Linked DNA regions of Homo sapiens. The protein of the gene in region 2 purifies or fractionates together with the protein of the main gene of each other region. This does not show direct contact. Each region holds a gene or a part of one and is shown on either strand. Other genes may lie near its edges.

What was found. Proteins that work in one complex are often made in the same cells at the same time.
Region 1: the proteins of PMM2 (region 2) and GAB2 purify together in Homo sapiens (co-immunoprecipitation; one large-scale study listed by IntAct). This does not show direct contact.

What each region holds. Positions count from the first base shown.
Region 1 is NC_000011.10:78,407,821-78,411,320, reverse strand, and holds part of GAB2 (GRB2-associated-binding protein 2), read left to right. Parts: intron 1-3,500. UniProt on the Homo sapiens protein: Adapter protein which acts downstream of several membrane receptors including cytokine, antigen, hormone, cell matrix and growth factor receptors to regulate multiple signaling pathways.
Region 2 is NC_000016.10:8,846,332-8,849,825, forward strand, and holds the end of PMM2 (phosphomannomutase 2), read left to right. Parts: intron 1-1,392; coding exon 1,393-1,494; 3' UTR 1,495-2,994; downstream 2,995-3,494. UniProt on the Homo sapiens protein: Involved in the synthesis of the GDP-mannose and dolichol-phosphate-mannose required for a number of critical mannosyl transfer reactions.

The DNA of each region.
Region 1 (3,500 bases), on a different chromosome or scaffold from region 2:
TGAGATTTTAATAGGAAGTGCATTAATCCTGTGTACCAATTTGGGAAGAAATTACAGCTTTACTATATTAAATCTTCCAGTCCATGAATTTATTTTACATTTATTTATATATGTCTTTCTTCCTTCGTTTATTTTCTTCTCCTTCCACCATCCCCCCCCCCAACCACCCCCACCAGAATCTTGCTGTGTCACACAGGCTGGCGACAGTGGCACAATCATGGCTCACTGCAGCCTCAAATTCCTGGGCTCAGGTGATCCTACTGTCTCAGCCTCCCAAGTAATTGGGACGACAGCTGCGTACTGCTGTGCCTGGCTAATTTTTTTTTTTATTATTTGTAGAGACAGGGTCTCCCTGCGTTGCCCAGGCTGGTCTCACACTCCGGAGCTTAAGCAGTCCTCCCACCTTGGCTTCCCAGAGTGCTGCGATTATAGGTGTGAACCACCATGTCTAGCCTTCTGGAAGAGATGGTGTAGAACTGGTATAATTCTTTAAACCTTTGGTAGAATTCTCCAGATTAAACCATCTGGATCTGGAAATGTCTTTGTTAGGAATTTTTTACATTTTTAATCCAATTTCTTTAATAGATACGGGGTTCTTCAAATTATCTACTTCATATTGGCTGAATTATAGAAGTTTACATTTTTCAACAAATTGGTCCATTTTGTCTAAGTTGTTACATACATGTGAGTGGAGTTACAGTATCCTGTATTATGCTTTCAGTGTCTGCAGGGTCTGTAGTGGGTCCACTGCTTTATTTTTTTAACCCTTATTCTTGCATACTGACATTGCTTCATTATTATTTTTTGTTTGTTTTTTGAGACAGCATGTCACTCTGTCACCTGGGGTGGAGTGCAATGGCACGATCTCAGCTCACTACAACCTCCACCTCCCAGGTTCCAGCAGTTCTCCTGCCTCAGCCTCCCGAGCAGCTGGGATTGCAGGCATGTGCCACAATGCCCAGCTGATTTTTGTATTTTTAGTAGAGACAGGGTTTCACCATATTGGCCAGGCTGGTCTCAAACTCCTGACCTTAAGTGATCTGCCTGCTTTGGCCTCCCAAAGTGCTGCAATTACAGGCATGAGCCGCTGCACCTGGCCTCTGATTTTTTTATATAGTAGTTTATTCATTTGAGACTTTTCCTCTTATTTAATGTATTCATTTACTGCTATGAATTTCCCTCTCAGCACTGCTTTAGCTGTGTCCCACTAATTTTGATAAATTGCATTTTCAATTTTTATTTGCTCAGTATATATATATTTTTTTTACTTTCCTTGAGACTTTCCTCTTTGACCATGGATTATTTACAAGTACATTGTTTAGTTTCCAAATGTTTGGAGATTTTCCCATTATTTTTCTGTTTCTGTCTTTTAGTTGGAATTCATTGTGGGAGTAGAGTAAGTTCTATTTGATTTCAATTATTTTTAACTTGTCAAGGTTTATTTTATTGCTGAAAATGTGGTCTATCTTGCTTTAGGTTCCATGGGTACTTTGAAAAGAATGTTTATTCTGCTATTATTGGGTAAAGTATTCCATAAATGTCAATTATATCTTTTTGATTGATAGTGATATATATAATTCTTTTATATCCTTGCTGATTTTTCTATCTAGTTCTTCTGTCGATTGTTGAGAGACAGGGGTTGAAGTTTCCAACTATAATTGTGAATATTTCTGTTTCTCATTTCACTTATATCTGTTTTTGTTTCACATATTTTATTTTTTTTATTATTTTTTTGGAGATGGAGTTCCGCTGTTGTTGCCCAGGCTGGAGGTGCAATAGCATGATCTCAGCTCTCCGCAACCTCCACCTCCTGGGTGCAAGCAATTCTCCTGCCTCAGCCTCCCAAGTAGTTGGGATTACAGGCATGCGCCACCACACCCGGCTAATTTTGTATTTTTAATAGAGACAGGGTTTCTCCATGTTGGCCAGACTGGTCTCGAACTCCTGACCTCAGGTCATCCGCCTGCCTCGGCCTCCCAAAGTGCTGGGATTACAGACATGAGCCACCGCACCCAGCCCTGTTGTTCAATATATACACATTTAGAATTGCAACATCTTCTTGGTGGCATGACCCTTTTATCTTTATATAATACCTGCTGAGTCTCTGGTAATTTCTTTTGCTCTGAGGTCTACTTGTTATCTGATATATTATACAAGTATCTGAGGGCTACTTGATATATTATAGCCTATATCTGATGATATAGTTATTCTTGCTTTCCTTTTATTGATATTCACATGATACATCTTTTCCATCAATTTACTTTCAACCTACCCATATCATTGTATTTGAAGTGATATCTTATAGGTGGCATATTGTTGGGGTGTATTAATCCGTTCTCGCACTGCTGTAAAGAACTACCTGAGACTGGGTAATTTATCAAGAAAAGAGGTTTAATTGGCCCACAGTTCCACAAGCTGTACAGGAAGCATGGCTGGGGAGGCCTCAGGAAACTTACAGTCATGGCGGAAGGTGAGGGAGAAGCAGGCACATCTTACATGGCTGGAGCAGGAGGAAGAGAGTGAGGGGAGAGGTACTACACACTTCTAAATAACCAGATCTCACAATAACTCACTCACTATCATGAGAACAGCACCAAAGGGGAACTCCACCTCCATAATCCAATCATTTCCCATCAGGCCCCACCTCCAATATTTGGGGATGACAATTTGACCTCAGATTTGGGCAGGGACACATACCCAAACCATATCATGGGGCATGTTTTTAATCCACTGTGCTGATTTATGTCTTAATTGGTATATTTAAATTTACACTTAATATAATTTCTAATATGCTAGAGCTTAGTTCTGCCACTTTATTTTTTGTTTGTGTTCTGTTTTTGTTTTCTTCTTGCCTTCCTGTGAGTTTCTTGAATATTTTTTAGAATTCCATTTTGATTTATCTATATAGTGTTTTTGAGTGTATCTCTCTATACAGCTTTTTTAGTGGTTGCTCTAGGTATTATACTGTACATACAACAGTCAGTTGGTGTCGTCTTATAATCTAAATGAAGTCTGTATCATCATTTTACAAGTTTAAGTAAAGTATAGTAACCTTACCTCCCTTTATGTCCTTTTGCCATCCTCCATATATAATTGTCTTAAATATTTTTTTTATATCAGACAGTGCTATAATTTTTGCTTCAGTCATTAAACCTAATTTAGAAAACTCAGAAGGAAAGACTATTTAATTACATTTTTGTTTACTATGTGCTTTCTTCTTTGCTGATGTTTTCAGGTTCCTCTTTTTTTCATTTCCTTTCTGTTTAGAGAACTTCCTTTAGCCATTCTTTAGGGTAGATTGGCCAGTGATAAATTGTCTTTATTTTCCTTCACCTGAGAAGGTCTCATTTTCCCCTTCATTCTGATATTTTCACTGGATATTGAATTATTTAGTTGACACTTCTTTTCTTTGAGCACCTGTAAAATACTGCATCCTTTCCTTCTGGCCTGCATGGTTTCTAATGAAAAATCCATGGTCTTTCCAATTGCTTTCCCTCAGG
Region 2 (3,494 bases):
CTTTATGAGAAAAATCCCTTTTTTCTACGGTTGTGTTCATTGTATTGTAAAGCAATCGTAGATTATTTTAAGGTTTTGAGTTAGAGTGATTATCCAATTTTATGAGGGAAATAAAGGAATTCCATGAGAAAAACGGGGGCTTTCCTGCAGGGCTCGGGGTTGCGGGAGCGGCAGATAACCTGATTCATTAACGTGAGCCCAGTGGGATTGGTGGGGGTGATGGGGACACAGATGGGAGCACTCAACTCAGGCACAGGACCCCAGCAGAACATGCCCAGGTCCTCCTAGACATGGGCCCTTGCAGACTTTCTGAGGCCTCGGTTTCGTCATCTTACCAAGGTGTGACCCCAACCATCATCTCCTGAACTTCTGGCCACAGAGCTGTGAGCAAGCTTCCATCATGACCCCATTTTGGAGATGGGGAGTTGGCGCAGCCACACTGCTGCTCAGTGGTAGAACCAGCATCTGACCCAGGCCACCTGTTCCAGAGACCCTGCTTTTAGCCAGCAGCTCAGACCCCAGTCATGTGGGGCCATTTATTTATTTATTTAAGATAGAGTCTCCCTTTGTCGCCCAGGCTGGAGTGCAGTGGTGCGATCTCGGCTTACTGCAACTTCCACCTCCCGAGTTCAAGCAATTCTCCTGCCTCAGCCTCCCGAGCAGCTGGGATTTCAGACGTGCGCCACCATGCCCAGCTAATTTTTGTATTTTAAGTAGAAATGGAGTTTTGCTGTGTTAGCCAGGTTGGTCTCAAATTCCTGACCTCAAGTGATCCACCCTTCTCAGCCTCCCAAAGTGCTGGGATTACAGGCATGAGCCACCATGCCCGGCCCACGTGGGGCTGTTTAAATTAAAATCAAATTAACTGAGTTCCTCCATTGCATTGGCCACGTTTCAAGTGTGCAGAGTGACACATGGCCAGTGGCTGCCATCACCGCTGATGTCGCCACGTCCCTCATCACAGGAATATCCCTGGCAGCCCTGCTCCCGGCCCTCTGCCCTCCTGACGCTCCCTTGTGACTTGTTAGAAAAGCGTAGGTACAGCTAAAAAAAAAAAAAAAACTGATGGCTGTGAGAATACTGTCACTCGCTGATGCCTTCTGTGTAGAAAAATAAGCCTTAGACAGATCTTCGCAAGAACATCGTGATGGCTCTCATAGGCATAATTACGTGTTCCAAGCCAAATTGCAGTTCAAGAGAAGGTTATAAATCTCTTCTTAATAACAATTGTACTCACGTTCCTCTCCTGGAAACTAAGAGGAAGGTAGCTGAAGAAACTCTCCCTGCCCAGTTAAATCTTGTTTTTTGGGTACTTTTGGACTCCAGGGTCACATCAGCAATGGCCCGGGACAGACGAGGGGGAGCCTTCATCTGTACTTCGTGTCTTTCCAGGGTGGCAATGACCATGAGATCTTCACAGACCCCAGAACCATGGGCTACTCCGTGACAGCGCCTGAGGACACGCGCAGGATCTGTGAACTGCTGTTCTCCTAACGTGGGAGCGGGAGGGGCGGGGTCCCGGCTGACAAGCCAGCATAGGGCATTCGGTGGCCAGAGCCGAGGGTCCTCCCACACGTGCTCACCCACCCGCAGCCTAGGCAGGCTCTGCATGCTATGCCAGGCATGTGCAGTCTGGACTTCCACCTCCAGTGCCAGAAACTTCCAGAAGGAAGGAGAAAACTCTTGTCAAGAATGGCCCAGAGGAATGCCTCGCACAAAAGGTCTTCCCCACCCACCCCCAGCCCCCTAGTCTAATACCCACCCTGATACGTGCAATCATGTAGTTTTGGCGGAAATTTCCCCATCATTCTAGGATGATACAGAAAGAAAAACTGTGCCTGGACCCTCCCTCTTGGTGGGTCTGTGGAAACATAAGCGGTTTTTTTAATGGGCCCCTGCATCAATACCAAACATGGGGGTTTGGTAATGAGAAACCAGGACAGGCCATCTGCAGTGACCCAGCCCAGGACGAAGTTTACAAACACCTCCTGGAACGAAGCTCCCGCCTGCATGTCACCTTGATGGGGGCTGTGAGTGGGGCAGTGTGATACCCAGTGACTAGACGCACTCTGCGTTTTCCCGTGTTTGGGGCTGAGGCCTGCTGGACAGATGGCTGGCCAAGTGGGAGCAGACCCTAGGGAGTTTGCACCTCGGCTGGGCCGGATTCGGACCGGCTCTGTGTTCACTACACTCAGAATAGCCTGGCTGCTTCTCTGTCTCCGAGACCGGAGGTAGTGGGAACCAACAGCTGGGCTGGAGAGTTGGTGCTGGCAAAACAGTCCTTGCCCTGGGGCCGGTTCTTACCCAGGTCCAGAGAAACCAACGCGGGATGTCAGACTTCACCAAAAGGACTTTCTGGTTGCCCCTGGCTGGCTTCCTGGAGGCGTTCGCCTCTAGTTTCTCAGGGATGGAGCGAGAGCCCAGCCAGAGAACAGTAAGAGGAGCTGCTCTCCTATCTGCACTCACCCAGGCCTTCACCCAGACTTTACCACGGAGGCGGCTGAGTGCAGCTACAGCTAGGTCCGCGTCCCTCACTCTTTTCATCTTCTGCACGTTCTTCGTGAAACTGGAAGGATCCCGGGTCTCAGCTAGAACACGGTGGAAGAGAACTTTCCTAGGAAACGGTTCATGTGTCACTTTTCAGGATGTGGAAACACTGAGCCATACACCCTCCATTGCTTGGTGCTGGGGTTGTGTGGCCTCCACTGGGCACTTGCCGACCTGAGTCTGGGGCCAGGGGAGCCCAGGCTGCCCTGCACTCCTGCCTCCCAGCCCACAGCCAGGTGCTTTCATCACAGCTAAACCTGGTTCCCTCCAAACCTCCCAGCCACTCGGGCTTGTAACTGTCTGAGCCCCGGATCCGGTGGGGTGAAAGCAGCCAGCTCATCCCAGTGACTCACAGGACACAGCCATCCAGCGGCATCTTTCCTTGTCGAATGATACTGTAATGACCTTCCAAAGTGAAGAGTAGCACATTAAAGTGATTTTATTGTTTCCTGTTTCTCATTCCGATTTCTTTTTCCTCCTATGTTCCCAGATTCTGGAATGGAACCCCAGCCCTTCCAGGTCTGAGAGCCACTCTTTCTTTACTCTGGATTTCTGTCACATCGGGGGCCCCTCCCTCTGCGGAGTTGCATGTTGCTGTTCCTGATGCACAGACTCCTCCCCCGCTGCTTTTCTGCCCACTGGGTCAGGATCTGCCATTCTTTACAAGTTTCCTTAACGTATTGCGTCAAAGCGAGACAACCGAGTCTTACTCAAACTTGTTTTAACCGGAGATGGAGGGTTGCTGCTGTGTCACCGCCTGCACAGGGCTGCCCTCAGGTGAGTACCCCGAGTCTGCCAGGCTGGGTGCTGATGCGCGGAGGTTTGGGCCGTCCCTGCCCCAGTTCCCACAGTGGCTGCTTGAGACCCTCCCCAGGCCCCTCGAGCCCCTCCTGCACTGTCTGCTGCCTCCCTTCTGCAGTCAGAATTGACACTCCCCTTCCACCTTC